7 linked regions of the Homo sapiens genome follow. The protein of the gene in region 1 purifies or fractionates together with the protein of each later gene. This does not show direct contact. Each region holds a gene or a part of one and is shown in the gene's direction. Other genes may lie near its edges.

Region 1 (3,500 bases):
TCATTGAATGAGTTCATCCACTGATGATTGTCTCTGAATGAATTATTTCATCAGGGCTACAAAAAAATGTTCTCATTCTGTCAGTCTTTTCACATTTATTAGCTAAATAATATTCCCATAATAACTAGGGCTATTTTGTTGTCTTGAAATACAGTATGTACCCCCTTCCCCCAAAAAACTAGATAAATGCTTAATTCATTTTTTTTAAAGTAATTTTTGGTTAAAGAAGTTACCTTTGTTGTTCTTTTTAAGAATCTATTGATTTTGCTTCTAGTTTATGACTTAATTCATTGGCTAGGCTGCTGGTTCTCCCCCAGTGATTATCTTATTATCTTAGTCCTTGTGAAATGGGTTTCTTTTGCACAAGAGTCTTTACATCCTTGGGTGTGTGAATGACTTTCTCAGTGCCACACGTCAGTCCATCTAGTCCTGCGCTTCTCAGAAGAAGATGTAACAACCTTTCCTTTGGTTTTTCTCTTCCTGTTCCAGGTCACACTGTGAACAAGATGCGTAAACACTCAGATTCAGAAGTGGCTTCTCTTGCCAGAGAAGTTTACACTGAGTGGAAAACTTTCACTGAAAAACATTCAAATAGACCTTCTATTGAAGTTAGAAGTGATCCCAAAACCGAGTCGTTGAGGAAAAATGCTCAGAAATTACTCTCAGAAGCCTTGGAATTAAAGGTAATGCCCTAAATATATACAACTGTTATGTACCCATAATAATTAATTTTTAAAAGAAGAAAAATAAAGGTAATGTCCTGGTCGGATGTGATTAGTAGGTGCTCTTGGTTAAACGCCTCATAATTTCATAATTAAGATTTCATAATCTTAATGCTGTGGCTTTATTTTAACCAGTTATTCTTTAAGGATTCTGGATTTATAAGCATTCCGGGAGACAGTGTTGTAGGAGGCAGGCTTTTGAACTAGCAAGATCTGGGTTGAAACCCTGACATTCTAGTTGTGACACCTTAGGCAGATAGCTTAACGTTTTCTGAGACTTGATTTCTTAATCTGTAAAATGTGGATTGTAAGTCCTACCACTTAAGGTATTAAAAAGGTTAAATGAATCATATATGCAAAAGAATAGTAGTGCCTGCTGATTAGAAGTTATTTAATGGATGTTGGTTACTTCCCATTTAAAATTCCTTCCCTTCTTGCTGAAGTAAAAATTCTGTGATGGACTGTGTTATGGAATATCAATGGTAAAATAAATAGCTGTCTATTGAAAAGACTCAGATCCCCCATTTTTTGTCAACAGCCATATCTTTAGCTTTAAGGCATAAAATCAATTGGATAGACTTGTTCCCTAACACCTTCATGGCTTACAATTCAGATGATGTTAGTGGTTTGAAGTATACATGCTGGAAGAAGGATTTTTGCTCATTAATAATAATATTCATTGTCATCAAACAACAAATCTTATAAGCCGATTAATACTCTGGAAAATAGGACATATAATATTCATGTTTCTTCCTTATCCCAGGATATCCCAGAGCAACTCTGCTAAAGTATCCTTAAAGAACAATTTAATATTAATAAAATAAGCAATTCAGAAGTCTGATTTAAATGCTAGCTCTGTTACTACAGTCTCTAAAAAAAATTTTAGCCTTTCTATCTCAATTTTTTATCTACAAAAGAAGGACTTGTGATATAGTACTTACTTTTTTTAAAATAAAGTTTTGGACCTGAAGTGAATTTGCACCAAAGCAGCAGCTGCATTGCCACAGTTCTGTCTTCACCTTCACCATGTTCCTCTTGGTCAAAAACGCACCAAGTCGTCTCCAAGTTTGAAGCATTCAGCAAACAATGGCAAGGCAGAGCCACCGGAAACGTACACCTGATTTTCATGATAAATATGGTAGTGCTGTATTAGCTAGTGGAACCACTTTCTGTATTGCTATATGGACATAGGTAGCAACACAAATCAGAATAGAATGGAACCTGTCCCCTGTTGGCAGGGTCACCCCAAAGGAATGGAGAGATCAGTAATCATTCCAGCTGGTGTAATAATGAATTGTTTAAAAAACAGCTCGTAGTTGATGCCAAGTTAAAGCACTGTGTACCCATTAAGATATGGCATTATTGAAGAAATAAAGTACATTTGAAACCTTAAAAAACTAAATAAAGTTTTGGGTTTTTAAATACAAACTTCTAATAGAAAATGAGAAAAATGTATAAAAGGGAAAAAAATGTAACCCAGACATAATCTTGTTAACACATTGGCACATTTCCTTTTTTGGTAAATTATTATGGGTTTTTAAATGAATGTTGGGCAAGTTATGATTATCTGAGATTTATATAGAGTGAATTATATGCCAAATGTTCCATAAGATATTTTTATTGATTATTTAAGTAACATTGCAGAATATTGATGTAATTATTTACATTTGTGTTCTCTTGAATCTTGATCAATTTTAGTTAGTGTCATTTTTTATATCCTTTTCTATATATCTTTATTTTTTCATGTTTATAATTTTTAATGACTATTTGATAGTTCAGTGAATTGCTATGCTGGAGGTTCACTTAACTTTTCCTAAAGGAAGCTTTAATATGAGTATTAAACCCTTGGAAGAGAGAACAAAGTATGAAAGTTGTAAGTCTGATTTTCCAGAGTATCGATTAGCCAACAAGATTTATTTTAAATAAAGTTTAGTTTTGAAATAAGTCAAAATTACTGCAGAAACATACAGTGTGGATATATAATACGTAGTTAATGTGGTGGTAAATACCAATTTCCTGTGGTATCTTTTTAAGTAAATGATAATAACAAAGCTATGCTTGTAAGGATTAATGAGCAGTTTGCCTACTGTATTAAACTCCACGATAATTATCCTTTTAGTTTATCCATTAATTATCCTTTAAATGGCACATCAAGTGGTAAGCACTCAAGTGTTATAAAGCAAAGTTAAAAAAGTGATATGTTTGTTAGTGTTTTCCAACATAATTGGAAAAAATATCAGATTAAGCATAGCTGAATGGTTTTGTTCCCAAAGAGTAAATTTAAAAAATTAAAAGTATGCATCTCACTGTCGTCCTTAGCCAAAAAAAAAAAAAATCACTCTGCTTTCCTTGCATAAACAGCATTTGATAGCATGTTTATCAGTTTGTTATGTCAGAGAATATAAATACAAGCACTTTTATATAAGGTTAATTCTTAGCACCTATCATCATCTGAGATATTTCCATATTAGAGCAAATCAATGAACCATCTAATTCAGTATCTGGTCTTTGACAGTAACCAATGTTGAGTGCGTTCAAATCAGACATCAGATCTTCGTAAATGTACTTAATCAGGCAGCAGTAAAGCATTGGGTTTAAGTTATTGGCCCAGTGACTTAAAAGCCTCTACAATTTGATCCTAGCATGTGTTATTGCAAATACCAAATCTTCTCATTACATTTTTGTAGAAAAAAAATGTTTCCATGTTGTTTCACTCATATCCTTTAATAGTGAAAGCCATAGATGAAGAATAATAACGCACAGCCTAAAGGTGCATCT
Region 2 (3,500 bases), on another chromosome or scaffold:
GATCATGCAGTATATGGTAGAATGGCAACTTGAGGCCAGTTCTTAGGTGTGTTTGTTGTCCTTATTCAGAATGGAACAATGTGGTTTATTGTACAAAAATTTAAAAATGAATGTCGAAAAGTAGAAATTATTACCCAAATCTCACCCTCTGTGGTTGTTTGCTATGTGATCTTCCAGACTCACATATACATGTAGATAATTTTTTTTTTTTTTTTTTGAGACGGAGTCTTGCTCTGTCGCCCTGGCTGGAGTGCAGTGGCGCAATCTCGGCTCACTGCAGGCTCTGCCTCCTGGGTTCACGCCATTCTCCTGCCTCAGCCTCCCAAGTAGCTGGGACTACAGGCGCCCACCATCACCTCCAGCTAATTTTTTGTATTTTTAGTAGAGACGGGGTTTCACCATGTTAGCCAGGATGGTCTCGATCTCCTGACCTCATGATCCGCCTGCCTGGGCCTCCCAAAGTGCTGGGATTACAGGAGTGAGCCACTGTGGCCGTCCTCACATGTAGATACTTTTTTAACTTTTTGCTTTTAACCACTTAAGATATTGTGAACTCATTTCCAAATTAACATATATTTGCTTTTAACAGCTACATTTCCACTGGAGTTACGTACCATTTGTAATCTATTCCTGGAAATTTAGATGGTTACAACTGTTTTTTATTTTATTTATTTATTTATTTAGAGACGGAGTCTGACTCTGTCACCCAGGCTGGAGCGCAGTGGTGTGATCTTGGCTCACTGCAACTTCCACCTCCGGGGTTCAAGTGATTCTCCTGCCTCACCCTTCCGAGTAGCTGGGACTACGGGCGCACACCACCACGCCTGGCTAATTTTTGTATTTTTAGTAGAGACGGGGTTTCACCATGTTGGCCAGGATGGTATTGATCTCTTGACTTCATGATCTGCCGGCCTTAGCCTCCCAAAGTGCTGGGATTACAGGTGTGAGCCACCACGCCTGGCCTCAACTGTTTTTTATTATAAATAATGCTGTAGGCCGGGCGCGGTGGCTCACTTATGTAATCCCAGCACTTTGGGAGACTGAGGCGGGTGGATCCCGAGATCAGGAGATCGAGACCATTCTGGCTAACAAGGTGAAACCCCGTCTCTACTAAAAATACAAAAAATTAGCCGGGTGTGGTGGTGGGTGCCTGTAGTCCCAGCTACTTGGGAGGCTGAGGCAGGAGAATGGCGTGAACCTGGGAGGCGAAGCTTGCAGTGAGCAGAGATCGCACCACTGCCCTCCAGGCTGGGCGACAGAGCGAGACTCCGTCTCAAAAAATAATAATAAATAAATAAATAAATAAAGCTGTGTACAGCCTGGCCAACACTTTGGGAGGCCGAGGCAGGCAGATCACAAGGTCAGGAGTTCGAGACCAGCCTGACCAACATGGTGAAACCCCATCTCTACTAAAAATACAAAAGTTAGCCGGGCATGGTGGCACATGCCTGTAATCTCAGCTATTCAGCAGGCGGAGGCAGGAGAATCGCTTGAACCCACGAGGCGGAGGTTGCAGTGAGCCAAGATCGCGCCACTGCACTCCAGCTTGGGTGACAGGGCGAGACTCTGTCTCAAAAAAAAAAAGAAGAAAAAATCCTTTATTCTGGTTTTCCCGTAGCTTCCACAGATCCAAAAGGGTCAGGTTTATTTCCAGTAGCCAAATATTCTGCCATCTGGACTGAGATATCTCCTAGGTTGAGGTTATTATAGAGGTAGTAACCTGATTCTTTCTTCCTTTTCTCCTTCCCCTTTCCTCCTTTGCCTCCCTCCTCTTTTCTTCCTCTGTATTTATTTTATCATTCCTTCTTCCTTTCTTATTTCTAGGCCATATAGGCCAGCCAGGGAAAGGTTAGTAAGGGGTGACATTGATCCCTATGACCTGAGGAATATTCTTCGACCTTGAGACATGCCGATTATGCTCTTCTTTTCCTAGGATGCTCACAACTGTATTCCTGAGCTGGACAGTGAGACAGCCATGTTTTCTGTCTACGATGGACATGGAGGTAACTTTAACAGATCATATTGGTAACATTCTAGGACCCCAATTCCAGACGTTCCAGGGCAAGAACAGGTCCCTTTGTTCATTTACTTTCCAGGGTCTGGCCCTCATTATCATTTCCTGCGTGGTGCTGTTTTTCTGTATTCTGTCATTCTTTTTTCCCAGTAGGTACTGTATTGGTTTATAATCTCACCAGGACTTGTTTTAATCCAAAGAGCCTCTATCTTTTTTTATTTTTATTTTTTAAAATTTTTAGGCTGGGCACGCGGTAGGTCACACCTGTAATCCCGGCACAGTGGATCACGAGGTCAGGAGTTCGAGACCAGCCTGACCAATATGGTGAAACCCCATCTCTACTAAAAATACAAAAATTAGCTGGGCGTAGTGGTGGGCGCCTGTGGTCCCAGCTGCTCGGAAGGCTGAGGCAGGAGAATCGCTTGAACCTGGGAGGTGGAGGTTGCAGTGAGCCAAGACCATGCCACTGCACTCCAGCCTGGGCAACAGAGCAAGACTCTTGTCTTAAAAAACAAAAAAGTGTACCCAGTTGAGCTGATTCTTTATCTTTTTTTCACTGGAGAACTAAGTATACAGGTGAGAAAAGACGAGATATTTATACCCGAGAGAATTGATGGTGAAATCCATTTTTTTGGATCAGAACTTCCCCAAACAGTGTCCTTCAAATAGGGTTCAGGGGTGCTAAGATATTTATCCCCTCAACCCTTGGGGTTCACTCCAGTATGGCATATAAATATTGTATCACTTTCTATGTGTGGGGAGCAGTGCTCCAGGTGACCTTCCTTCCTTTCCTTCTAGGGGAGGAAGTTGCCTTGTACTGTGCCAAATATCTTCCTGATATCATCAAAGATCAGAAGGCCTACAAGGAAGGCAAGCTACAGAAGGTCTGTCTGCTTACACCGCCCATTCCTCACTTGTGTAGGCTTTTCCCTTGTTCTCTAGCCCTTGGGCTTTTCCTTTCTTTTTGTCCTCTAGCTGCTGCTGCTTATTTACTCTTGAAGAATTCTGTTCCTAAAACGAGCTTATTGGCCGCCTTTTAGACTTGCCTTATTATTCCTAGGCCTCTGAGCTGTTTTTATCTGTGAGTGTCTCTTAGTGTGGTGGCTCACACTCTTAATTTGTATTCCATCCTTGTGCTCAGGATTGTATATAGGGAGTTCATTTTGTACTAGTCTTAGACTATTTTGCTTATATTCAGGCTTTAGAAGATGCCTTCTTGGCTATTGACGCCAAATTGACCACTGAAGAAGTCATTAAAGAGCTGGCACAGATTGCAGGGCGACCCACTGAGGATGAAGATGAAAAAGAAAAAGTAGCTGATGAAGATGATGGTGAGTGTGGCATCCCTTGTTTGAGGGGAAATCAGCATTTTAAGAAATATTCTTTAATATTACTTATCAATTCTAAGATAGGATGGCTTTCTAGGGACCTGGGGAGTCCTTATGTTAAAGAAACCTATGATGTTCTCCTGCATTGTATGTGGTTA
Region 3 (3,500 bases), on another chromosome or scaffold:
ATTTATTAATAAGGCTTATATTATATTTTTATTATTGCAAAGTAACTTATGTCTGGTTCAAAACTACCAAAAGGCTTATAATAAAATATACTTGTTCCTTGCCCTACCCATCCTCAGTCTTCTTCCCTAAAGGCTTTCAGTTTTTTCAGTTATTTATTCTGGCATTTAAAAACACCTGTATTTCTTGGCCGGGCGCGGTTGCTCACGCCTGTAATCCCAGCACTTTGGGAGGCCAAGGCAGGCGGATCACGAGGTCAGGAGATCGAGACCATCCTGGCTAACACGGTGAAACCCCGTCTCTACCAAAAATACAAAAAAAAAAATCAGTTGGGTGTGGTGGCAGGTGCCTGTAGTCCCGGCCACTTGGGAGGCTGAGGCAGGAGAATGGCGTGAACCCAGGAGGCAGAGTTTTCATTGAGCCGAGATCGCGCCACTGCACTGCAGCCTGGGTGACAGAGCAAGACTCCGTCTCAAAAATAAATAATTAATTAAATTTAAAAAAAAACAACAAACACCTGTATTTCTTTTCTTTTCTTTTTTTTTTTTTTTTTTTGAGATGGAGTCTCACTCTGTCACCCAGACTGGAGTGCAGTGGCATGATCTTGGCTCACTGCAACCTCTGCTTCTCGGGTTCAAGTGATTCTTCTGCCTCAGCCTCCTGAGTAGCTGGGACTATAGGTGCGTGCTCCACACCCAGCTAATTTTTGTATTTTTAGTAGAGACAGGGTTTTACCATATTGGCCAGGCTGGTGTCGAACTCCTGACCTCATGATCCGCCTGCCTTGGCCTCCCAAAGTGCTGGGATTACAGGCGTGAGCCACTGCGCCCAGCCTAAAAACACCTGTATTTCTAAGAACAAGAGTATGGTGTTATATTTTTAGTCACTTATTTTAGACGTTACCTGTCGACTCTGCTAAATTAGTATTTAGTATTTACGTGATTATGCTTATGCAAATATTAGTTATAACTGAGCAGTTTTATTTCTTTTTGTTTTTCCTAAGGGTAATAATTGCGTTTGCTTTTCATGTGTTTGGGGCTTTTTTGTATTTCTTGCTCATTCCTCCCACACCTTTCAGTAGCCTCACCACATCAAACAACTTAATGATTAAGTAATTTATCAGTTCTGATTTGTTTTGGAGACACTTTTTCTGAAGAGCACTATTTTTCTTTCAGGGCTTATTGCTCTGCAGATCTGCTACAGAACTGTCACCTGGGACTTAACTTTCCTATCATCCTTAAGATTTCTTTGTCCTTTCTCCAGGGTTGACTTTTCTGTTTCTTGATTCTCATATTCTCATATTTCTTGGTTTATTTCCTTGCACAGTAGTACATCCTTCTGTACTTTTAGCAGATTAAAAAGCTGGTACAACACTAGAGGGCATGGGTGATGATAGTCTTCAATGAATTTCACATCTTTCCTTTTCTTGGTCTACTCTCTTGTTTTGGTGGACATCCTCTAGTAGATTTCAGAGAAAGAGTGTATAGGAAATAAATTTTATTAATCCTTCTCTTCTGAAAATATAATTATTGTAGCTTCACTCCTGATTAATAGTTTGGCTGGGAATACAATTCTAAGTTGGAAACAATTTTTCTTATTTTACATTCAGTGTTGCTTTTGAGAAATCCTAAACTGTTCAGATTTTGATCCTATTGTATGTCATCTTTTTTTTCCGCCTTGCCAGAGCTTGTAAGAGTTTCCCTTTGTTCTAAAGGTTCTAAAACTATGAAGTACTTTTCTGTGGGTCTATTTTTCTTCATTTTTCTGGGTACTTGTTGGATCCTTTTGATCTAGAAACCTTGGCTGTTCAGGAAGTTTTCTGCAATTATGTCATTAATTGTTTCGTCCCTCTGTTTTCTATGGAATTTTATTATTCAGACATTGGACCTCTTGGACAGACCATTTAAGTTTTTTTTCTTCTTTTTTTCATCTGTATGTCTTTTCCTTCTTGAGAGATTTCTGCACCTTTATCTTTCTGTCTTCTCTATTTTGCCATCAAGGTTTTAATTTCTTTCTCTTTTTTTAAAGTTTTTAAAATCAGGCAGTCTTTCATGCCAGAGAAGGCTCAGAGACTCCAAGGTTTTAATTTCTAAAAGTTCATTTTTGGTTTTTGAATTGTCCTTTTTAAAACATAATATCCTCTTGTTTCATGGGTTGTAAATATCTCCTCTCTGTTTTCTCCATGTTATTTTTCTTTTTATGTGGTCTCTGTTCTGCATGTTAAAGGCTTTTCTTAGGTGTCATGTAATTCTTCATTGTAGTTTTTTTATTTGGGGATGAAAAAGGTGATTGACAGTTTGGAATATATAGGTGGGGTTTCTGCATGGAATATATAGGTGGGGTTTGTTGACTTTGAGCAGTACTATTGAATGATGTGGGTGGGCCTTTTGTTGGGGAACCCTTGATTTAAGTATCCTTTTGGTTTTCCTCGTCTGTGAGCGAGATTCCCCAGAGAGTGCTCTTCCAATCTCCTGCCTGAAACGAAAGGACTGGCTGCCAGCATTCCTAGAGCTAAGTGGTAGAAGGTGGCTGAGTGGCTTCTCATTCAGCTGTTTTCAGGACAGTACTATTTTTAGATTATAGTGCCCATGCCTTCAACTTTACTAGTCAACTCGTAATCCAAAGGCTTTCTGTTTTACCCTTTCCAGAGATTAACCTCTGGATTTCTACTGCAGATGGAAAGGAGATGAGTAGGCAGGGAGGAAGATCTATTTCTCAACCAGTTTTTACTTAGTCCTCCATAACCTTAGTATCCATCCCCAGTTGCAGATCCGTTTGAGGATTCTGCAGTGTAATCACTTTGGCTCTCAGCTTTCCCCACTGTTTAGGATTTATCTTTTTAAATTCTGCTAAGTTAGTTTCTACTCATCTGTCTACTTTCTAATTTTCTAAAATTTGGGTCTTTATGAATTTCTTTCTCTCTCTCTCTCTCTCTCTCTTTCTTTTCTTTCTTTCTTTCTTTTTCTTTTCCTCCTTTCCCTCCCTTCTCTTTTTTCCTTTCCTTTCCCTTACTTTCCCTCCCTCCCTCCCTCCCTCCCTCCCTCCCTCCCTCCCTCCCTTCCTTCCTTCCTTCCTTCTTTCCTTCCTCCCTTCCTTCCTTCTCTTTCCTCTATGCTGCCCAGATTGGAGTGCAGTGGTCTGATCACAGCTCACTGCAGCATCAACTTCCGGGGCTCAAGCGATCCTCCCGCCTCAGCCTCCTAAGTAGCTGGGACTACAGGTGCACACCACCATGCCCAGCTACTTTTTTTAGATTTATTTTTAGTAAAGGCAAGGTCTTGCTATGTTGCCCAGGCGTGGGTACATCTCTTTACTATGGTTTATTGGGATTTAGGGAAAGAGGGAAATTAGATATGTGTGTTTAATGTACCATCTTAACCTGCAAATTAGGCTTATATTAATAAGGACTATTTTCCTTGCAAATAATAGAAGTCCAATTCAAACTAGCTTAGGGGAAAGGTCATTGGCTGCAGAAGCTGGGAAGAATAGCTCAGGATGAAGG
Region 4 (3,500 bases), on another chromosome or scaffold:
GCACTTTGGGAGGTTGAGGAGGGCGGATCACCTGAGGTCAGGAGTTCAAGACCAGTCTGACCAACATGGAGAAACCCCATCTCTACTAAAAATACAAAATTAGCAGGGCATGGTGGCAGGCGCCTGTAATCCCAGCTACTCGGGAGGCTGAGGCAGGCAGGAGAATCGCTTGAACCTGGGATGTGGAGGTTGCGATCACACCATTGCACTCCAGCCTGGGGAACAAGAGTGAAACTCCATCTCAAAAAAAAAAAAAAAAAAAAAAAAAAAAAAAAACCTGGTTATATAGAATAGCATCATTTTTACCAGCTCCCACATCAAGATTGCCTTGAAACTAAATATTTTAAGCTTTTTCCCCCATGCCATTTAATTTGTAATTTTTAAAATAAACAGTATTTGAAAGCTTCTAAGACATCTGCTTTCTGTAGGTTGGAACATGTGACCAGTTGAAACAGGGCCTTCTATCAAGTTCATTTTTATGCTTTGTGCATTACCCTTATACTAGAATCACTTGTGCATTACCCTTATACTAGAATCACAGATTTCCTCTGCTTTGCCTGCCAGTTAGCAGCTTGTTTCTTAGTGCTGAAAAAAATTTTTTTTTATTTTTCTTAAATGCCTTTTATGAAAACTATCAATAAAAAATTTATATCTCTATTCCCCCAAGGTCTTAAATTTAATTGTATCAGAAAAATTTTAAGGGAGGGAGAATTTGAAATCTGATTGTACTATCTTAAAAAGCAGAATACTTTTAAATACTGTAAATATGGGTATTCATAGCTGATCCTTTTTTCCTGTTTCTAGGACTATCCTATTAAGTGTAATCTCACTGCTTAATGAGCCCAACACCTTCTCCCCAGCCAATGTCGATGCTTCAGTTATGTTCAGGAAATGGAGAGACAGTAAAGGAAAAGACAAAGAATATGCTGAAATTATTAGGTAAGGTTTTTTTTTTTATTACCTCAAGTTATACAAAACCAAAATATATTCTGGAACCAAGGGTTTAAATCAAACTTAAATATCCTGTCCATTCCAGGATAATTTTCCTCTATTAGATTTATAGTGTGGGAAGAGAAGATTTCTGCCTGAGCCTAAAGAACTTTGCTGTTTACCGAGAGAACAGCCACTAGAAGATAAGGCAGTAGCAGACCTGATTTTCTAGGAACCAGAACTTCTAGGTTCTGGCCAGGCATGGTGGCTCATGCCTGTAATCCCAGCACTTTGGGAGGCTGAGGCAGGCGGATCACCTGAGGTCAGGAGTTCGAGACCGGCTGGCCAACATGGTGAAACCCTGTCTCTACTAAAAATACAAAAATTAGCCAGGTGTGGTGGTGCACACCTGTCATCCCAGCTACTCAGGAGGCTGAGGCAGGAGAATTGCTTGAACCCGGGAGTTGAATGTTGCAGTGAGCTGAGATCACACCACTGCACTCCAGCCTGGGCGACAGTGCGAGACTCCATCTCAAAAAAAAAAAAAAATTGAATAAATAAAGCCTTCCAGTTTATTGGCATTCCTGACCATAGCAGCAAGGATTGTTTGGAAATCCTCATTATCAGCAACACTAATGTATGGTATAACAGAGCCCTAGAATAAGATTCAGGGGACTTGGAATCTACTCATGGGACCATTTATCAGATAATTTTTGGGGTCTTTTACTTTCTCCTCTGTATAAAATGGAAAAAAGCTTAACCTTTAATCTCTTAGGACATCAGGTTCTTATAATAGTACCCAAGAAATTTGCAATAAATACAAACCCTACACTTCCCCTACCCTCCACCTCTTTTTTATTTGTTTCTAATTAATTTTTTTTTTCTTTTTGAGATGGAGTCTTACTCTGTCATCCAGGCCGGAGTGCAGTGGTGTGATCTCGGCTCACTGCAGCCTCTATCTCCTGGGTTCAAGCAATTCTCCTGCCTCAGCCTCCCGAGTAGCTGGGATTATAGGCGCCTACCACCATGCCCAGCTAATTTTTGGATTTTTAGTAGTGACAGGGTTTCACCATGTTGGCCAAGCTAGTCTCGAACTCCTGACCTCATGATCCACCCGCCTTGGCCTCCCAAAGTGCTGGAATTACAGGCGTGAGCCACTGCACTCAGCCTCCTCCACCTCTTTTTAAAGAAACAGACATGGTCTTACTCTGTTGCCTGGGCTGGAGTGCAATGGTGTGATTACATGGTAACTTCAAATTCCCGGGCTCAGGCAGTCCTCCCACCTGGGCCTCCTGAGTAACTAAGACTATAGGCATGCACCACCACACCCAGCTAATTTCTATTATTATTTTTGTAGAGATGAGGTCTTGCTGTGTTGCCCAGCCTGGTCTTGAACTCTTGGCCTCAAGTGATCCTCCTGCCTCAGCCTCCCAAAGCTCTGGGATTATAGGTGTGAGCCACCGTGCCTGGCCTCCACCCCCCTTGATATTACATTTTTATTTCTTAAAATAGAGACCCCAAATACAGTTACAGCTTCCTCTGTGCATAGGAGTTGACTAAGCATTGGCATTTATACAAATAAGAATAAAATCTAGTTGGCTTGAGACCATGTGATATGAAAAAAGTTAAAACAATGCTGGGAAAGGACATGAGGTGACTGCTGAGTAATATAAAATCAGCAGTTCTAAGTTTTCTGCCCATTGGGATCACTTTTAAACTGTCCCTAAACAATAGCTGTCTTTTATGGGATTACAAGGACAGAGTTTGGGCATCTGTGTGTGTATATATATCTCACCTAGGTGACTGATGTGTACCAAACATTGAAGATAATTAGTAGAAATATTAAGATCCTACAGAAATTTAGAGGAGTGGGAGTGTACTAAGGATTGAAAGATCAGAAAGCTTAGGTATACATATTCCCAAGGTACTTCTATATATTTCTTAATTTGTTTAAGGGTCCGTTTATCTCATTCTATCTATTCCTTAATGACCTAGTACAGTACCTGACACTAAGCAACAGCTTTGTGTTAGGTACTCATTAAGGCATAGCCTGTCTCCTTAGGGAGCTCACTTTATTAGCATTTGAAAACAAATGACCATGTAGTATTATACCTATAGAAGCCTAAACAAGATACACTGGGAGAAATATATAATGTAATAGATTTCCTAGCAGAGATAATTCCTTATAACCAATACTTTTTCAGGTGAAAAAAGGGAAAATACCCATGTTTGCTAAAATACAGGAGTATAACAGCATGACATGTTAAGGGGATTACAAATGCTTGAGTGTAAATTCTGATGTGGGAAATATTAGAAAATTAAGCAAGAGAGGCACCAGGGTCTTCAAAGACATTGAAGTCATGATAAGAGTATGGTTCTTAATGTAAGAAGTGATGGGGTACCACTTAAATATTTTTGGGAGGGAAGAGGTGATGCTATTTGAGTTCTGATAAAAGAATTGGCTGCCTGGTGTGGTAGCTCACACCTGTAATCCCAACATTTTGAGGCGGGTGGATCACCTGAGGTCAAGAGTTCGAGACCAACCTGGCCAACATGGTGAAATCCCATCT
Region 5 (3,500 bases), on another chromosome or scaffold:
TGAGCTGAGATTGCACCATTGCAGTCCAGCCTGGGCAACAAGAACGAGACTCTGTCTCAAAAAAAAAAAAGTGTACCCATTTAAAAAATCTATACAGATGAGGGATGAGCAGACAAAAAGGAGTACAGATTGTCTCTGCCCCATCTTCATCTTTTGATCAAAGTAAAGACAAATAAAACTGTAAGCTAAATGGGTGAGTTGTGTAATGTTTTTCTCTTAATTACCATTTTACTGACATGTCAGCAGAAGCCTAACTTTCTGGAGCTAGGAAGTCTTGTGGCTAAAATCACAGTGTTGTCTTTTCTCTAATTCATTCTGTTATAGGCTACACAATAAAAAAAAGTAGATAAAATGATCTTTAAAATTATCCTTCCAGTAAAAATCATCAAAAGATTAAAAAGGAATGTGAAAGGTTATGGTTTTGTGGTATTTAACCTGAAAGGATAACTTTAATTTAACAAAAATACATAGCTTTGCTATAAAGAAATGCTATCTGAATAATCTCTGTATCTGCCAAAAGAGGAAAAATGGAAGGAAACGAGAATCAATTCAAATAAGAGCTTCATTTAATTGTTGAACAATAAGAATATAATTTCTAGACATTGGAGTAGGTTATTGAGAATAGGATTTTACTTTAAAGTATTTCAGAATAGGGTAATCACGTCTTAGATAATTTGCATAACTTCGGGTATACCTGGAAACAAATAAGACCAAGAGCTACTTGCCTCCCTCTCCCCATCTATTTGACACAAAATCTTACATTTAAAATTGAAAATGCATAATTTTCTTGGTTTTCAGTGAGTGACTGACCAATATGGAAAATACAAATATATTTTCTAACATAAAAGCCATGATGCTCTTTCAAATTAGTGGACAAAATTAATTAAATTGCTTTTGACTATTACAAGAAAAAAATCTTATAATTTCAAGAGTTGATACTTTATTTTAGAAATAACATTGCATTCTATTGAATGCATTTTTGAATATGACTGAATGATCTTAGTATTTTTTCTTTCTTTTTTTTTTTTTGGAGACGGAGTTTCGCTCTTGTTGCCCAGGCTGGAGTGCAACAGTCTGATCTCGGCTCACTGCAACTTCCACCTCCCGGGTTCAAATGATTTTCCTGCCTCAGCTTCCCGAGTAGCTGGAATTACAGGCATCCGCCACCAGGCCTGGCTAATTTTTGTATTTTTATTAGAGACAGGGTTTCACCATGTTGGCCAGGGTAGTCTTGAACTCCTGACCTCAGGTGATCCACTGGCCTCAGCCTCCCAGAGTGCTGAGATTACAGGTCTGAGCCACACTGCGCACTGCAATCTTAGTATTTTCTAAGGCAGAATTCAAAGGGGGAGAAACATTTTTGTTGAAGATGCTTAAAGTATAAATACAGTAGGAGTTGATCAGAATTTCATCTGTTTTTGTAAGTAACCTGTGACTAAATCAAGAGATAAACCTAGTGAAGAAATTTTAGACAAAGGGAGCCGGTAAATAAATTAGTACTGACTTAGTATTGAAAGGATTTGCAAGGCCAGGGAGGATCTGTTTACAGACAGAAAAAGAGAGTTGAAAATGAGGGAGAAAGAAAAAATATTTCAGAATTAGGCTGTGTTCAGCTTCATTTGGAAATATTCTTGTTTGTTTTTTATTGGAAAAGTGCTATCTAAATTCCTTTTTTGTAATGCTTAGAATCCTAGATTAGCCCAGAGAAGCTTGCTTGTTTCATCTCTTAATTGATGTAGCAGTATTTGTAAACTAGATTTTAAGATCTTTGAAGCAGTAGTCTGTCTTAATTATAATTTATCTTGTCTTCTCTCCTGCTTAAGCACAGTACTAGAAAAAAACAAAACATTTTTAGTGAATAACTAGTACTTAGGGAGGATTCAGCATTCATTTAGGGAAAGAAGAGAAGGAATGGAAATTCTTCCCTTCTTGGATCCAGGGCTTCTGAATAGCTGAAGTTCAGATTTCAACATTTTCCAATTTCTTAATTCCTTTTCGTAGTGATGATGATCTTCTCTAAGTATTAAGGGGAGAGCCAGTTAAACTAATAGGAATTGATGAATGCCTGGTAAGTACCTTAAGCCTCCTAAAATTTTTAAAGAGTAAATAAAAATGAATACTTATTCAGTACCTACTGTTTGTGAAGTCTAGGTAAAGGTTAAAAGTATGGATTTTGGAGCTTGGATTTAAATCCTTGATCCATCATTTACTAGCATTGTGACCTTGGCCGAGTTTTTAAATCTCTACTGCAATTTCCTCATGTAAATGGTATAAATGGTAATGATAGTAGATTCTACCTTATAACATTGTTATGAGAGTTAAATGAGTTAATACAATTTTCTCGTATTCTCATTTTATTCTTGCCATAACCCTATGAAGTAGGTGCTGCTATATTTCTTTCATTATTCAATAAATGTTTGGAGTTCCTACTATGTGCTAGGTATTGTGCTGTACTGCGTGAGCAATGGTGAACAAAACTTGTAAGTCACCTTGATTTAAAAATACACCAATGAATAAATATTATAAGTTTGGGGAGGTGTGAGAGTGAGCTTAAGTGGTTAAATGTACATCTTGAATAATGTGTGAGTTTCAAAGTATACAAATGTTGGCAGGGAGCATTCATTTTACAGGTAAACATACTGGCATAGAAGGATTTTAGGCAACCTCATCAGGGTCACATAGCTAATAAATGTCAGAATGGGATTGAACCTGGGACTGTTAGATTCTACGCCTCCTCATTCATTCATTTATTCTCTCACTCATTCACATGCTCTGTTATGCTGTATGGTGTTGAGTACCATATTTCAGATATTGGCACATTCGGCTTGTATAAGGGGAGACGCTTTTTTGCAGTTGGACGGCCATTGAAGACAAGTTGGTCACCCCAAGTTTTCTTTCCAGTTCTTCTGAAAAACTCACTAAAGAAAAAGAAAGCAAGAAATACAGAAAAGTATAGAAAAATAATCCATATTCCCACCACCTAGAATTAAGTTGTTAACAAGATGAAAACTTCATACTGAAAAACCACCCTTTCTAGAGGCGATTTACCACTTATTCCTTGCCTTTCAAAATATTTACTTTTCAAGGTAATCTCTCCTTATTAATTTGAAAAAAAAAATGTTTCTTTTAAATAGAGATTGTTAACTTGGGGTCTGGCTAGGCTGTGAATCCTCTGATATTAAACAAAAGATTTTGTTGAAGGTGCTTATAAGGCTTTATTTTTCTTCCTTTCTGCTCTAGCCCCATATGTGCAGGATTTTCATTAGATCCTCAAAGAGTTCTGTGACCCCCACCCTCTCCCTCCTACCTTGTTACTTTGAAACATTCTCACTACAGATTTAGTGGGGAATTTGGTCATTTATTTGGATTATTAAGAGTTTGGAAACTGCTTCTAACTAAGCAGATGATGTGGTAACAAAGAAGGCTTATTTGTGAAATAGTGGGTCCAAGATTGATCACATCTTTCTGGTAAACCAGCCTTATGCCTACTCTCTTTTCTC
Region 6 (3,500 bases), on another chromosome or scaffold:
AAATAGCTTTCAACTGCTCTTGCGACTACCGCTTTTTAAGCTCTCTGAACGGTTAAAAAAGTAAAACATGCTTGTGTGAATCTAGCTTCTTTCTTCCTTTCTTTCTTCTCTCTTTCTCCCCTTCCCCTTCCCTTTCTTCTTTACAGTTATACATTAAGTTTAGCAGACTCTAAACTGGGAGCGAGTTCTTTTTGCACAATTCACTTTTCTGTCTTTTTTTTCCCCTCATTCCTCTGTCAGGTGACGATTCATTAAAATTATGGGACATCCGACAATTTAATAAACCACTTTTTTCAGCCTCGGGTCTTCCCACCATGTTCCCAATGTAAGTAGCATATTTTAAATATTTGATCAGCATAGAAGAATGGAAAAGAAGTACTTTTACTTTAATGTTAATTTATATCATACGTCTTTTAGATCTTCTGGAAAAGAGACTTGAGAGAGTGATCAAAATCTGTTTTTTGAAAAATATGTATTTTTTTTATTTTTCACATTCCTCAGACTTCAAGAACTTTTTTGAAGTTAAAATTATGTATTTGATTTATTCATGTGTTTGTGTGTATTGTATGCACGCACAAGTCTTGGAGTATTAAAATATATTTTAAGAGATTCAGTTGTTCTTTTAATATTGTATAAATGACAAGGTAGGCCTTTTAAAATTTGTGGTTTTTAAAAATTTGAGCTCTAGTCAGCCAGGCATGGTGGCTCATGCCTGTAATCCCAGCACTTTGGGAGGCCGAGGCGGGCAGATCACGAGGTCAGGAGATTAAGACCATCCTGGCTAACAACGGTGAAACCCCGTCTCTACTAAAAATACAAAAAATTAGCCGTGGTGGCGGGTGCCTGTAGTCCCAGCTACTCGGGAGGCTGAGGCAGGAGAATGGTGTGAACCTGGGAGGCGGAGCTTACAGTGAGCCAAGATTGCGCCACTGCACTCCAGCCTGGGGGACAGAGCCAGACTCCATCTCAAAAAAAAAAAAAAAAAAAAATTGAGCTCTAATACCTTCAAGGCAGTTTTTAATATTACTGAGCATTTATAGTACAGCTTATTTTCTCATTTTTTAAATCATTCAAATCAATAATTCAGCATCCTTCACTTGTTCAGACTGTCTTGCTGTGGGTAGCTGAACGCTGTTATCTCCAATCTACTAAATTGGCACCTGAAACTTTTAAAGGTTTTTTTGAAGCAGCTGAGGCAAAACTTGACCTCTAAGTCCTATAGTTGGTGCTTAGGCAAATTGTTCTATTTTGGTAGAAATGAAATAATGGTCAACAGAGAAGAGCATGAAGATAATGGAAGTGTCAAGGGAAGGAAGCTGTATGAAAGCTGTATGATAATGCAGTACTAACTCTAACATGTCTGCTGCCCATGGCATTTTATGTTAAAACGAACAAACATGAGTTTATAGCTGATGATAATTTTTTGAGCTATTATACCTGCTACAAGTAATGCTAACTATATAACTTCTGATGGTAATTTTTTGAGCTATTATACCTGCTGCAAGTAATGCTAACTATATAACTTCTTTGGGTCATGTCTTAGATTAGTCACAATCAGATGGCCAGACTGCTAACAACAAAAGCCTTGGAATCATAGCCATCAATTAGGTTCCAGCAATGCAACCTGTGGCTCATTTCATGGTGCTCAACTTGATATAACTCAAATTATTTGGGGGTGATGGTAGTGGTGTTAGTGAAAATAGTTTTTAAAATGGCCAAAATAATCATTACTTAGACATTAGTCAAATATATATCTGTCCGTAGACACTCTTAATGTCTATATTGAGTCTTTTTATACTTCCTTTACATTAAAAAAATTACAATGTAGAAGTTAAAAAGCACAGATTCTGGAGTCTGACTGCCTAAGTTTGAATCCCAGCTGTGCTACTTACTTTTGTTGCCGTGTGCAAGGTGTAATTAAATTATTTTCTTCAGTTCCCTCATCAGTAAAATGTGGATAATAACTACCACATAGGATTATTGTGACGATTAAACAAATTAATATAAGTGCTTGACTCATAAGCCCTATATAGGAGTTACAGAGATGTTTATATTTTATTTAATTCACTAATGATTGCTGGACTGTTGTGGAGGTCATAAGCTTATACTCGTAAACTCTTTTTTTCTGTAGGACTGACTGCTGTTTCAGTCCAGATGATAAGCTCATAGTCACTGGTACATCTATTCAAAGAGGATGTGGCAGCGGCAAACTTGTTTTCTTTGAGCGTAGGACTTTCCAAAGGGTGTATGAAATAGACATCACAGATGCGGTACGTATATTCTTTTCTCCTCAGCCTTGAGAATACATAAAGTTTGCCTCTTACCCATCTTTTGGTTTTGTTTGTTAAGTAGAATATAAGCCCTGGCCCTTAGAGCACGGTGATAGCTGCTTTTCACTCTAGCGTAGGAGTTATCAGTATGTTGTGGATGGCTGAGCTACCCTATCCCTTTCCACAACCCAATATTTCCTATGGACCTACACTTTAGTAGGAATTTCAGCTGGGTTTCCCTCTCTGCCAAACAAATTGAGGAGTGAGGAAGATGATCATCATGTAGGATACAGAAAGGAGCATCCCACAATGGGCATGTTTGTGAGGATCTAGGGATTGTCGACAGAAGTGAAAGATTAATAAGTGACGAAGTTTAACATTGTTCCCGAAACCATGAAAACTTTGACAGAACTCTGCTTGTGTGGGTTGTAGTCATTAAAGTCAGGCTCAGCTTGCGCTGAACTTAATTGCTATTTAATTATTTGGAAGTTTAAAGCATTTCAGATTTAACTTCAACACCTTAAAAAAACACATTAGTTTTCTTTACAGATTTATATGAACACTAAAACACCAGCATTCACTGATGCATTCATTCATTTGTTCATGTCCTGAGACTGAGACTGGAGCCACATGTAATACAATAAGAATGAAAATTCCCAGAGGAAAATTTGAATTCCTTTAAGCTGTATATTATTATTTACATGGTAAAGCAAATCATTGTAATTTTCTGAGTATGAAACAGGCCAATTAATGTCTGTGTAAATTTTCTTTGGCTCATTGTCAAATCTTTTAGTAATATCCTATATCTTAAACAGTGCTCTTATGTAGGTTTTTCCAGTTGTTTCAGCTCTTTGTAAACAGTTGAGACATATTATGCACTTACGTGACTCAGACAATTGAACAACTGTTTTTAAATTACCAGCAAAAAACTCCTGTCTCTAATGTTCTAGTATTACTATGAAGTCTTAATTTGCGGGTTCTGAATGTAAAACCACGGTATAGAGTATTATAGGAAAAGTGAAATAAAAATGAGATTAATTCTAGATGAGTACTTATGTTTAATAGATTCTAATCTCATGACGTAATTTGAAATGTGCCAGCACTCACAGTGCTTTTTCTGGGTGCATTAGGAGCCAACTAAAACACTAGAATCAAAGAAAACAATTGAATCTATCAACTTTCATCTCAGAAAGTAAAATTATTGTAATTGGTTGTTCCAGAAATAAGCTG
Region 7 (3,500 bases), on another chromosome or scaffold:
ATGTCTGACACCAACTCTGACCCAGAAGTGGTAAATGTGGACAATTTATTGGCGGCTGCAGTAGTTCAAGAGCACAGTAATTCTGTAGGCGGCCAGGACACAGGAGCTACCTGGAGGACCAGCGGGCTTCTAGAGGAGCTGAATGCAGAGGCAGGTTGGTCTTCCCCATCCCCCTTCTCTAACGGTGTAATATGCATGTGTCCTGGAGCTGTTTTCCTTGTAGTGGACCCTGATGAGGAGAACAGGTCATACCAGAGACATCTGGCATTGAATGATTGGTTGTGACTATCCAGGCTGCCATTTATACCTGAAACAATTTGGATAGCTTGTCATTCATCTTTCCTACTCAGAAGGAAGTAGAAATAAGAGCATTTAAGACATTAATTGTAGGTATTGGTAGGTTTCAGTAGGCATATTTCTTGGATTAAAAATGCCCAATATTTGCAAAAATGACCCAGATATGCTCATATTCTTTGGCCAGTTCTTTCTCTCACTTTAATTCTGGGTAGTGACCTTGCAGCTTGGATAGGGAATCGTTGAATCTCTCCCTGTGGGGCTGGCTGTTCATACACAGCGCTGCCGCTGTTTCTTGTGCTTCTTGCTGTGGAGTGACCCTGTTAATTCCTCGTCAGTAAGTTCTCATTTGTCTTTTCTAACTCCTTTCTTTTAGTTTCTGTCTCTGTTAGCTCAGGAAAAAAAATCTCTGTCCCTGTCTTACATTTTTTTAGTTTTGTGATTATTCTTTAAGGTGGTATTTATTCACTAAAAAATCCACTGCTGTTACCTTTGAAAAACTTTCACAATACCTCCAAGTCTTCTTCAATATTTTCTTCAAAAGTTTCTTTCAGCATTCTAATTTAAACCTTGTTTTGTTGTTGTTGTGAAAATACTAGCACTGAACATTTAAGAAGAGAAGGGGATTGAGAGACTGCTTATGCAGTGTATAATTTCTTCAGTGTTGCTGAAAGATTATAGTTTTCTAGTTAATTTATAAATGCATTGGTTTTATGAGTTAATCTAATAGTTTAATCACTACCTAAAGTTATTTTTATGAAAAATGAGTTTTACAAAAAAATGAGTTATAGTTTAGAACTTTTTATATTGAGACAGAACTCCATTGATTGTTGTTGTCTTAAATTATTCCTTTCATAATCTTTGATTGGAATTACAGAAAAATCACTTGTTTGTTGACCTGATTGATTTACTGTAGCTAATTTTGGAACTGAACCTGAATTTAGTTTTGATTTTTTTTGACTGGTAACTGCTGCCTGTTTGTCCTTGGACCAGTTGTTTCTCCTCTGGACTTCAGTTTTTATATGTATAAATCCTTGTTTTGCCCAACAAGTGTCTTTTAAGGATTTATTAATATGTATTAATACAAATACTTTGAAAAGAAGTAATAATGCTTCTGGGCACAGTGGCTCACGTCTGTAAGCCCAGCACTTTGGGAGGCCGACGTGGGAGGATCACTTGAGGTCAGGAGTTCAAGACCAGCCTGATCAGCATGGTGAAACCCCGTCTCTATTAACAATACAAAAATTAGCTGGGCGTGATGGGTGTGGTGGTGGGCGTGGTGGTGGGCGCCTGTAATCTCAGCTGTGGAATTGCTTGAACCTGGGAGGCAGAGGTTGCAGTGAGCTAAGATTGTGCCACTGCACTCCAGCCTGGGTGACAAAACTAGACTGTATCCCCCCAAAAAAGAAAAAAGAAGTAATAATGCTTTATATCAGTGGAAAGTAGTTTGGCCACATTTTGTACAATATGTGTTTCTAAGTTATTTATTTATTTATTTATTTATTTGAGATGGAGTTTCGCTCTTGTTGCCCAAGCCAGAGTGCAATGGCGCGATCTCAGCTCACTGCAACCTCCGCCTCCTGGGTTCAAGCGATTCTCCTGCCTCAGGCTCCTGAGTAGCTGGGATTACAGGCGCGCACCACCACGCCTGGCTAATTTTTTGTAGAAATGGGGTTTTACCATGTTAGCCAGGCTGCTCTGGAACTCCTGACCTCAGATGATCCGCCTGCCTTGGCCTCCCAAAGTGCTGGGATTACAGGCGTGAACCACTGCACCCAGCCTTGTAATTTGTATATTAGATGGTTTATCTTTGTTTTTCATCCTTTGGCAATTAAGTCATCCATTCCACTTCAGTTTTATTTCTCTGTTTTCTGAGTCTTGCCGTTAAATATAGACCATTTTATGGTAAAGTTTTGGGGTAAAAAATGAATGATTACCAACGTTTTGCTCTTCATATGCAGAATTCTTAATATTAGATTGAACCGTATGGAATTGTTAATATTTGACTTTTTGACCTACAAAAAATCAGCCATTTCTTATGACTTGACCGAATAATGCAAAGTTTGCGGTTTTAAAATATCATTAAAGTTTAGCTTTTGGGATGGCATTCACATTTTCAGATTCAAGTAATTGTTAGCCTATTTAAAAATCACTCTTAAGAAACTACAACCATTCTTTTTAAGAAATAAAACGTGGTAAAAGTATGTGAGGAGGAAAACAACTGTGGCTTCAGATGTTTTCCTTCCCTTTGCCCTTCCCATGCCAAAGCTATCCTAAATTGGATATTTAATGTGTGGTATTCCTGTGTATTTCTTTATATATTTGTACTACATTTGTTATATATCTAAATAAGCATGTTTTTAAAACTAATTGGTATCACATTGAAGGTAATCATTTGAAATGTGCTTTTTTAGTTAAACATTTTATGAGTTTTGTTGTTGTTATGTGTGGCTCTAGTTCATTCATTTTCCACTGCTATTTAGTATTCCACTATATGAATATATCACAATTTACCCATTCTCTTGTTGGACATTTAGGGTGCTATTTTAAGTGATACTGCTCTTAACATTTCTTTATGTGTTTTTTGGTATATGTATATGATAATTTCTCTAGGATATAATTAATATATAGAGAGAGCATTTGTGCATATTGGACTATAAATTTTGTGTAGGTTTCTGTATATCATAGGATGCAGTCACCACTGCTCAGCAGATCCCCATGACATTTTGTTATGAAGCTTATTGGCTCTTTCAAAGGCATTTTTTTTTCTTAAATCTGACAATACTGGTATGTGGGTAATAAATAAAAATAATACTGTAGTCTTGATGTGATTATCATAGTGGAACTCATCTTGTGAAGATATCTGAATGTGCTTACAGTGTCTCAATAAAATATTAATAGAATTTATGCTTAGGAGCCAGTTAATAGTTTTGAGGCTTGGACTATTAGTCAGATGGTCATTCTTATGGTGTGAGTGTAAGTTAAAATTTTAATGGTTAATCTGGGTCCTGTCTTTCCCTTTCACAACAAAATAGCAAGCCTAGTTATTGAGCAGACTATTCAGGGGTTCACTTTAATCAACAGCAGCATCTCAACCCAGGTCCACAGCCCCATCCCATTTAGGATCACATAGGTACGCACTAAAGATAGAGTAGGTTGCCTTTTTCCAAGCAATTAGATGATTATCTTGCATCCAAAATATATAT

The links.
Region 2: the proteins of TCEANC2 (region 1) and PPM1G purify together in Homo sapiens (affinity purification with mass spectrometry; one large-scale study listed by BioGRID and IntAct). This does not show direct contact.
Region 3: the proteins of TCEANC2 (region 1) and SLC4A1AP purify together in Homo sapiens (affinity purification with mass spectrometry; 2 studies listed by BioGRID and IntAct, with this or other methods). This does not show direct contact.
Region 4: the proteins of TCEANC2 (region 1) and UBE2R2 purify together in Homo sapiens (affinity purification with mass spectrometry; 2 studies listed by BioGRID and IntAct, with this or other methods). This does not show direct contact.
Region 5: the proteins of TCEANC2 (region 1) and ANKRD17 purify together in Homo sapiens (affinity purification with mass spectrometry; 2 studies listed by BioGRID and IntAct, with this or other methods). This does not show direct contact.
Region 6: the proteins of TCEANC2 (region 1) and WDR70 purify together in Homo sapiens (affinity purification with mass spectrometry; 2 studies listed by BioGRID and IntAct, with this or other methods). This does not show direct contact.
Region 7: the proteins of TCEANC2 (region 1) and ARK2N purify together in Homo sapiens (affinity purification with mass spectrometry; 2 studies listed by BioGRID and IntAct, with this or other methods). This does not show direct contact.

What each region holds. Positions count from the first base shown.
Region 1 is NC_000001.11:54,088,108-54,091,607, forward strand, and holds part of TCEANC2 (transcription elongation factor A N-terminal and central domain-containing protein 2), read left to right. Parts: intron 1-489; coding exon 490-683; intron 684-3,500.
Region 2 is NC_000002.12:27,385,592-27,389,091, reverse strand, and holds part of PPM1G (protein phosphatase 1G), read left to right. Parts: intron 1-1,933; coding exon 1,934-2,003; intron 2,004-2,812; coding exon 2,813-2,898; intron 2,899-3,212; coding exon 3,213-3,345; intron 3,346-3,500.
Region 3 is NC_000002.12:27,670,389-27,673,888, forward strand, and holds part of SLC4A1AP (kanadaptin), read left to right. Parts: intron 1-3,500.
Region 4 is NC_000009.12:33,911,160-33,914,659, forward strand, and holds part of UBE2R2 (ubiquitin-conjugating enzyme E2 R2), read left to right. Parts: intron 1-804; coding exon 805-939; intron 940-3,500. UniProt on the Homo sapiens protein: E2 ubiquitin-conjugating enzyme that accepts ubiquitin from an E1 ubiquitin-activating protein, and catalyzes its covalent attachment to other proteins by an E3 ubiquitin-protein ligase complex.
Region 5 is NC_000004.12:73,252,299-73,255,798, reverse strand, and holds part of ANKRD17 (ankyrin repeat domain-containing protein 17), read left to right. Parts: intron 1-3,500.
Region 6 is NC_000005.10:37,700,818-37,704,317, forward strand, and holds part of WDR70 (WD repeat-containing protein 70), read left to right. Parts: intron 1-240; coding exon 241-325; intron 326-2,131; coding exon 2,132-2,270; intron 2,271-3,500.
Region 7 is NC_000018.10:46,240,034-46,243,533, forward strand, and holds part of ARK2N (protein ARK2N), read left to right. Parts: coding exon 1-154; intron 155-3,500. UniProt on the Homo sapiens protein: AMPK substrate important for exercise capacity and skeletal muscle function.